2 separate regions of the Homo sapiens genome follow, and region 1 is reported to be linked to region 2. The links are microRNA targets in miRTarBase. Many come from high-throughput screens and were not tested one by one. Region 2 holds a microRNA gene; the other region holds the end of a gene's coding sequence.

The links. The annotated mature microRNA hsa-miR-145-5p reads GUCCAGUUUUCCCAGGAAUCCCU and lies in region 2 at 1,357-1,379, opposite strand. An mRNA with a match to its seed (bases 2 to 7 or 8) in the 3' UTR can be bound and repressed. Matches are read on the target gene's strand: a 7mer-m8 pairs with bases 2 to 8, a 7mer-A1 pairs with bases 2 to 7 and ends in A, and an 8mer does both.
Region 1: the mRNA of MIXL1 is a reported target of hsa-miR-145-5p. The part of its 3' UTR that is shown has no 7-base or 8-base seed match.

The regions. Positions count from the first base shown.
Region 1 is chr1:226,225,362-226,229,361 of GRCh38, forward strand. MIXL1 (Mix paired-like homeobox) reads left to right here. Exons shown (of 2, transcript NM_031944.3): 2 at 146-1,699. The coding sequence ends at 451. Among named protein-coding and RNA genes, the nearest start is that of MIXL1, 3.7 kb to the left of the region's middle.
Region 2 is chr5:149,427,720-149,432,039 of GRCh38, reverse strand. It overlaps MIR145 (microRNA 145), which reads right to left and starts at 1,394; the gene lies at 1,307-1,394. It overlaps CARMN (cardiac mesoderm enhancer-associated non-coding RNA), which reads right to left. Exons shown (of 5, transcript NR_105060.1): 4 at 3,001-3,157. It overlaps MIR143 (microRNA 143), which reads right to left and starts at 3,122; the gene lies at 3,017-3,122. RefSeq lists an enhancer at 760-1,054.

The DNA.
Region 1 (4,000 bases), not on the chromosome of region 2:
GTCAACCCAAGTGCTTTCTGAAGACAAGGCTCTGGAGAGGAAGCCAGGGGATGTTAAACTGGAACTTACCAGTATGAACTGTGAACATAATGTTAGCATAAAAAACTCCAACCAAAAGCAGCTTTTATTTTCTCCCCTCTTCCAGGTATGGTTCCAGAACAGGCGTGCCAAGTCTCGGCGTCAGAGTGGGAAATCCTTCCAACCTTTGGCTAGGCCGGAGATTATCCTCAACCACTGTGCTCCTGGAACTGAAACGAAATGTCTGAAGCCCCAGCTGCCTCTTGAGGTAGATGTGAACTGCCTGCCCGAACCAAACGGGGTTGGAGGGGGCATCTCTGACTCTAGCTCCCAAGGTCAGAATTTTGAAACCTGTTCCCCTCTCTCTGAAGACATTGGTTCAAAGCTGGACTCATGGGAGGAACACATCTTTTCTGCCTTTGGTAACTTTTGAGGATTCTGGGAGAATTCGGGATAAGCTCTGAGGAGCCATGACTGACAGCCTGGGAGAGACACATCAGCATACTGTCCTTTCTGACTTCCATGCTAAGGACATGTCCTTGTTAACCTTGATGATGGTTTTGACAGCACCTCTCACATTTGAAGGTACCCCGCCACTTTGTCAATGACGTTTTAAGCCCACACTCCCACCCCAGAGTTCCCGCATTCGTTTTTACCTGTGTTCTCTCCAAGCCTGCACATTCCATTGGTCTGCATCCCTATGCCTTCTTGCCAGGCCTGTTTTTAGTTTTTGGACTGGTTGTTCAGAACTCATTATTTTCTTCACAAGAATGCCTCAGCTTGACTCAGTTTCCCCTTGTGTTTGACAGCTGCCATTTTCTCCTGGTCCCTCCAAGGCTTATAATCTTAAAGTCACTCTACCCCGTCTCTTCAACCCTCATCCTAGGTTTATTACTTTTTAAAATTGGGCCTGTCATCTTCACGTTCAATCATAGCTCCAATGACTCTGCATGCAGATTATTTCGACAGCCCCCTTGCCTCTAGCTTCTCAACTACTTAAAAAAAATTACCCTCTGTGGGCCAGGTGCAGTGGCTCACTCCTGCAATCTCAGCACTTTGGGAGGCCGAGTGGGTGGATCACCTGAAGTCAGGAGTTCAAGACCAGCCTGGCCAATATGGCGAAACCCCATCTCTGCTAAAAATATAAAACTTAGCTGGGCACGGTGACGGGAGCCTGTAGTCCCAGCTACTCAGGAGGCTGAGGCAGGAGAATCACTTGAGCCTGGGAGGTGGAGGTTGCAGTGATCTAAGATCGTGCCACTGCACTTCAGCCTGGGAGACAGAGGGAGGCTCTCAAAAAAAAAAAAAAAAAAAAAAAAAATTACTCTATGGTTCTGTGGTAGCCTCCAGTTGCTACCAAATTATAAAAAGCTTTCAGTTACCCTCCCAGATAACTGATATCATCCTTAGCCTGCAGGACAGCTATGCAAATCTGAAGGTCAACTATCCACAATATATGCTTTGGTCTTAAAGTCACTCCTTTCAGTTTTGAACCAAATTCATACCTTTTGCTTTCAAAACACTCGAGGACTCCCCACCTGCCTTCTGAAGTCTGAAATTTTCTCTAAGTAATCCTGATTTTGCACCTGTTACTTCGATCACTCCATTACCCTTAGCACTTGTTATTGTACTTCCTGTGCAAGTTTTGTGGATTATTAAATGTCTTTCACAAATGTTCCAATGTAATTTCTATTTAAATGAATTCTTCTAGATAACTCCTAGTACAGTGCTTCACTCCACAATTGCTCAGTACATACTATGTGGCCATGAAAGACATTTCTAAAAGTTTCTGCAAATGTAGTTTTTAGCCAGTAATCAATATTATATCAGCAGGCCACTGAGCTGAGAAATTTAATTGGGTTAAAAACATTTTTGCTTGAATGTTTAATAATATTTTGTGAGTATTTTGGTTTTGGGAAATTTCTCTTTGCAATTTATAATTCTAAATGTATGTAAATAACCGTTTCTAAGTCAGTCTAAGATCAATTAAAATATTTTGATATTTTGAGAGTTTTCAAACTCCTTTAGAGTCAAAGGAAATGGTCTGTGTATGAGGCAACCACAGGTGAAGTTTCTTTGTAAACTGTGCTTTAAAGTAGGCTCATGGGATGCCATAGCTAGCTAGGGCCAGGACATCATGTCTTGATGGTTACTAGAAGAGCATGAGATTATACATGCCAGATGCCCTAATTTTCAGAGATGTTATTCAAGTGGTTTGTACTTTTCTTTTTTTGAGATGGAGTTTTGCTCTGTCACCCAGGCTGGAGTGTAGTGGCATGATCTTGGCTCACTGCAACCTCTGCCTCCCGGGTTCAAGCGATTCTCCTGCCTCAGCCTCCCGAGTAGCTGGGATTACAGGCGCCCGTCACCACGCCCAGCTAATTTTGTATTTTTTAAAGCAACCAAGAGCTGGGCAACAGAGCAAGACTGTGTCAAAAAACACCACAACATACAAAAATTAGCTGGGCATGGTGGCACATGCCTGTAATCCCAGCTACTCAGGAGGCAGAGGCAGGAGAACTGCTTGAACCTGGGAGGTGGAGGTTGCAGTGAGCCAAGATCGTGCCACTGCACTCCAGCCTGGGCAACAGAGCAAGAATCCATCTCAAAAAACAAAAACAACAAAAACCAACCAAGAGTTTCCAAGCACTTAGGAGTTGAGGAAAAAAGCAAGCAAGCAAGCAACCAACCAGGAGGTTGGGCACAGTAGCTCATGCCTGTAATTCCAGCAGTTTGGGAGGCTGAAGTGGGAGGTTTGCCTGACCCCAGGAGTTTGAGACCAGTCTGGACAACATAGCAAGACCCTGTCTCTTGAAAAAAAAAAAAAAAAAAGCCAGGCACGGTGGCTCACGCTGTAATCCCAGGACTTTGGGAGGCTAAGGCAGGCAGATCACTTGAGGTCAGGAGTTCAAGACCAGCCTGGCCAACATGGTGAAACCCTCTCTCTACTAAAAATACAAAAATTAGCTGGGCATGGTGGCAGGTGTCTGTAGTCCCAGCTACTCAGGAGACTGAGGCAGGAGAATTGCTTGAACTCGGGAGGCGGAGGTTGCACTGAGCCGAGACTGGGCCACTGCACTCCAGCCTGGGTGACAGTGAGACTCTGTCTCAAAAAAAAAAAAAAAAAAAAAAAGTCAGGCATGGTGGCATGTGCCTGTGGTCCCAGCTAATCGTGAGGCTGATGTGGGAGGACTGCTTGAGTTCAGGAGTTCAAGGCTGCAGTGACCTATGAGCGTGCCACTGCACTCAGCCTGAGTGACAGAGTGAGACCTTGTCCCTGCCATTCCCCCAGCAAAAAGCAGCCAAGAGAACATAGTTGAGGCCTTAGCAGCAAAGTGTACTTATCGATTCTTTGAAAACTGTTTGAAACCAAAAATGAGCTGATAAACATTAGCTATTAACACTGTGCTCAGGGCCCATCCTGGAGGTGCTCAGGAGGTCTCACAATCACAGAGCTTTACATTTAAACTTGTGACTTACATTTAAACTTGTGACATGGCCAAATGAGATACTGCAAATACATCCACAAAACTGAAAGACATATAACACTTTAAATTATGGTCCACTAAGAATCGCACTTACGAAAAAATCTGGTAATTATTTTATTATTGCTTTTATATTGTCTCATGTTGTTTCCCCAGTGAACAACTGTAAAAATCTATAAATATGTAAATCCTGTTGTCACATTTTAAATTGTGGGATCCTCTAAGAAGTAGCCTGCAGCTCTCTCAAACTCTAAGAGGCCCTAACTGCTAAATGTGTTACAGACATTATCTATTTTATCCTCACACCTACCATGTAAGACAGGGACTAATCTTCCTACTTTAAAGATCAAGAAACTGAATCTAAGTAGTGTCTCACAATTATACAGCTTATAAATGGCATGGCCAGGACTCAAACTCAGCCCACCCATTAGTCTACCACCATACAGTGCCTCCTATATTGCAGTGGTCTTGTTAGTCAGGACTAATGATAAAGTAAT
Region 2 (4,320 bases):
TTTTTAGTAGAGACGGGGTTTTGCCATGTTGGGCAGGCCGGTCTTGAACTCCTGACCTCGTGATCCACCCGCCTGGGCCTCCCAAAGTGTTGGGATTACAGGTGTGAGCCACCGCGCCCGGCCGGAAAGTTCTGATTTTGCACCTGGATTACATTAGGTCTTCTGTCATTCAGTTAGTTAGCATTCTCTATAGGCAGTCAGAGAGGCTGACTTTTAAAATTATTTAGGTATTTTTTAGAGACAGGGTCTCCCTATCTTGCTCAGGCTGGAGTGCATTGGCTATTCACAGGCACAATCATAGCTCTCTGCAGCCAGGAACTCCCAAGCTCAAGTGGTCCTCCCCCGTCGGCCTCCTCAGTAGCTGGGACTGTAGGCACTCACCACTGTGCCTGACTTTTTATTTTTGTAGATTTTGCTTTTGGCTAAGAAATTGCCATAGGCCATTGGACTTGAAATCAGCGCTGGCCCTGCCTTTTGCTGTCTGGGCGACCTTGGGCTGGCCACTTTACCTCTCTGAGCCTCACTGATCCCACAGATCTACGTAAGGAGGGCTTTGAGGATGAACCAGCCTGTGGAAGTAAATGAGAGGAAGTGATGGGGGCATTGCTGGTGGTGCAACAATGGAGAGGGTTTCAGTAGTCACTGGCTCAAAAGTGAGGGGGCAAAAGGAACCTCAGTGTGTGTGTGTGTGTGTGTGTGTGTGTGTGTGTGTCCAACGTCTTGTAGCAAGGTTAGCAATCACCATGTGTAGGGGAAGAGCCATAGTGTTCCTAGGGTGGGTAGAGATGCCACAAGAGGGCGTTCTGAGTTTTCATCTTCTCTACCTTGAAAAATTTTCCATTTGTTCTCTGGCTGCATTCCAAATCGAACGAAGACTTAAGGTTTTTAGTTTACCTAACTGATTGAATACACTTTTAAAATGAATTCATGTGTGTTTACTAGTTTATCAGTCATGTGGATGCAATACCGCAGCCCCTGTCGCAAGGCGCGTTGGGAAGTGGGTTGAGGGTGTGGTGGAGACAAGAAACGCATGCCTGATGGTGTCCTGGTTCAACCGCTGCTCAGCCGGGTGGCCTTGGACAAATTTCCCAAGAGTACGGCAGTGCTGAAGTTCCCACATCCAGCCTCACAGGGATGTTATGAAATAGACACGATGGAAAGAAAAGCAACGCAAAGGTTTGGAACATGGTTCATAAGCCCTCTTACCTCCAGGGACAGCCTTCTTCTTGAACCCTCATCCTGTGAGCCAGCCGAGGCCCCATTGGGGGGCAACTGTGGGGTGGGAAGGAGGCAAATCCAGCTGTGAAACCATGACCTCAAGAACAGTATTTCCAGGAATCCCCATCTTAGCATCTAAGGGATTCCTGGGAAAACTGGACCGTGAGGACAAGGTGGGAGCGAGTGGCCTTCAGCGCCAAGGCCGCCGTGTCCCTAAGGACCAGCTGGAGTTCTCTTCTGCATCCAGCCCCATCTGTAGCAGCCAGGGTGGGGTGCCACACGTCGCCGGATGTGGCTTATTGCTCTGGGGGGGAGTAGTGACCGGAACTTCAATTGCCCTGAAAAGTACCGGAAACCCTCTGGCGCCCCCACCCCCAGGACTGCCCTCTGCTGTCTGCACGGCTCATGTGTATTCCCCAGTCTCCTGCCAGAGGGGTGGATTTAAACCAACCATTCAGTTCCTAGCCTGGGTTTGGCAACTTCCTCTCTGATAACCTCCAGTAAGTCACTTAACCCCTGAGCCTTGGCCTTCTTTAATTATAAAATGCATGAGTCCACGACCTACTGGAGAGGTGAGATGAATAAGATTGGGGGAAGGGGGTAGGAGGAAGGAAGCCTGTAGTATTAATGGCAAGTGTCCGGGTCTGTCTTTGCTAAAAGTGACCTGAGATGTAAAGACAAGATGGGAGCAGAATTTAGAATGTTCTCCTCCTGCTCCTCGGTCCCAGGTTCCATAATCACATGCAATGGGTAAAAACATGGATTTGAAGGCAGATTAGGGTACAATCTCAGCTCAGCACAATCAATATGTGACTTTAGGTGAGCTGCTTAAATAAGCCTCAGTTTTTCTCATCTGTAAAATGGGGCTATAACACCACCCACTTCCCAAGCTTTTGGGGAGGTTAAATGAGACTGTGCTTGGCTCCATGGCTCTCCTCTGCTGCTCATTGTGCTTCTGAAGCCTCTGGGAGAAGTCAGACATTTGTGACGTGCCTGGACTGGTTTCGGCAATACCCCGGAGCCAAGGTTAGAAGTACAGAGTGAAGACCCTGACTCAAAGGCCAGAATTTTTATCTTCAGGGCTGAAAGGGTTTTTAGGAATTGTTTGATCCACAAATGATGAATGAGTTTCAGCTGTGAATCAGTACTAGTGGCTTTCCAGGGCTCATTGTTGAGGATTCTGAAGCTGCATCTGAGCACTTCAAGAATGGATGCCTGGCGGGGCGTGGAGGCTCATGCCTGTAATCCCAGCACTTTGGGAGGCCGAGGCGGGCAGATCACCTGAAGTCAGGAGTTTGAGACCAGCCTGGCCAACATAGTGAAACCCCATCTCTACTAAAAATACAAAAATTAGCCAGGTGTGGTGGCGCACACCTGTAATCTCAGCTACTTGGGAGGCTGAGGCACGAGAATTGCTTGACCCTGGGAGGAGGAGGTTGCAGTGAGCTGAGATTATGCCACTGCACTCCAGCCTGGGTGATGGAGTGAGACTGTGTCTCAAAAAAAAAAGAATATATGCCTTTACTGATTAGCTGTGTCTGCCATGGGCTCAGAAAGAGAAAGCAGAGGCAGGGTGCTGGGGAAATGCTAACGCCTCATGCTAAGATGGACACACTGGGGTACACAGAGGAGTCAGGACATGCCCAGACTCGTGAAGCAGATCGTGGCACCAGGGGAACTTGTGTAGAGGAACTTCCCCAGCATCACAAGTGGCTGATAGTATGGAGTCTGGAAACACTCTGTCCTTCCTGTTATGGCCCCCCACAACCCCCCAGCACTTACCACTTCCAGGCTGATGGCTGCAGAACAACTTCTCTCTTCCTGAGCTACAGTGCTTCATCTCAGACTCCCAACTGACCAGAGATGCAGCACTGCACCTCAGGCTGGGAGACAGGGCGCTGCGCTGCTCCGCTCTGGTGGCCTGTGGCGGGACTCCAACCTGGCCAGGAGAAGGGGTGTTAGAGGGGACCTGGGCTCCACCTCTCCAGCTCTGGCCGGGAGGCTGTTGTAATTCCTCACAACTGTGTTTCCTGTCTGTGGCCTGCCATTTGAGCACCCAGGACCAAACCTTGACCTTTTTTCTCTTCTTTTCTTTGTTTCTTTCCTTTTCTTGTCAAGAACAGCTTAATTTAGAAGGAGGACATTTAGTGAGTACAATTAACAGGTTTTTAATATATTCACAAAGTTGTGCAAACAATGGCACAATATATTTTAGGTTATTTCACCATCCAAAAAAGAAGCTCCTTATCCTTAGACAACCCCTAGTCCTGGGCAGACCAGTTTCTATCTCTATAGATCTGTCTATATATTTTCTGGATATTTCAATACATGGAATTATTTAATATGTTGACCTACCTTTTGATGCCATGCCCCACCTTTATGCTTGGCGCATTCCAGCCTAACAGCATCATTCATGGTACTTAACATTTTATATCATCGAGCAATCAATTGTCTCCAACCTATCTTTCTTCTGCCACTCCTCCTCTCTTCCCAGCCATCTTCCCATAATGATTTTTCAAGATGCAAATATGCTCATATCTTACTCAAGTTTAATATCCCAAAAGGGCTCCCCATTGCCCTCAGGCTGAATTCTGAAGCCCTTCCCAAAGCCTGCGAGGGTCTGCCGCATCTAGCCCCAGTGACCTCTTCCTCTTGGGCTACAGCTCATAGATGTCCTTCCATTCTCCTAGGGAGCCCTGTGCCCACCCACTTCGGGCTCCCAGGGACTGTGCTGCTCCCCGTCACTCTCCCTGCCCATCTCTTCCTCCTGTGCTAGGTCTCTAATCAAGTGGCCACTCTGGGAAACCCTCCTTGACTTTTTTTTTTTTTTGAGACAGAGTCTCCCTCTGTCGCCCAGGCTGGAGTGCAGTGACACGATCTCGGCTCACTGCAAACTCCACCTTCCGGGTTAAAGCAATTCTCATGCCCCAGCCTCCCAAGTAGCTGGGACTACAGGCGTGCACCACCATGCCTGGCTAATTTTTGTATTTTTAGTAGAGACAGGGTTTCACCACGTTGCCCAGGCTGGTCTAGAACTCCTGACCTCAGGTGATCCACCCGCCTTGGTCTCCCAAAGTGCTGGGATTATAGGCATGAACCACA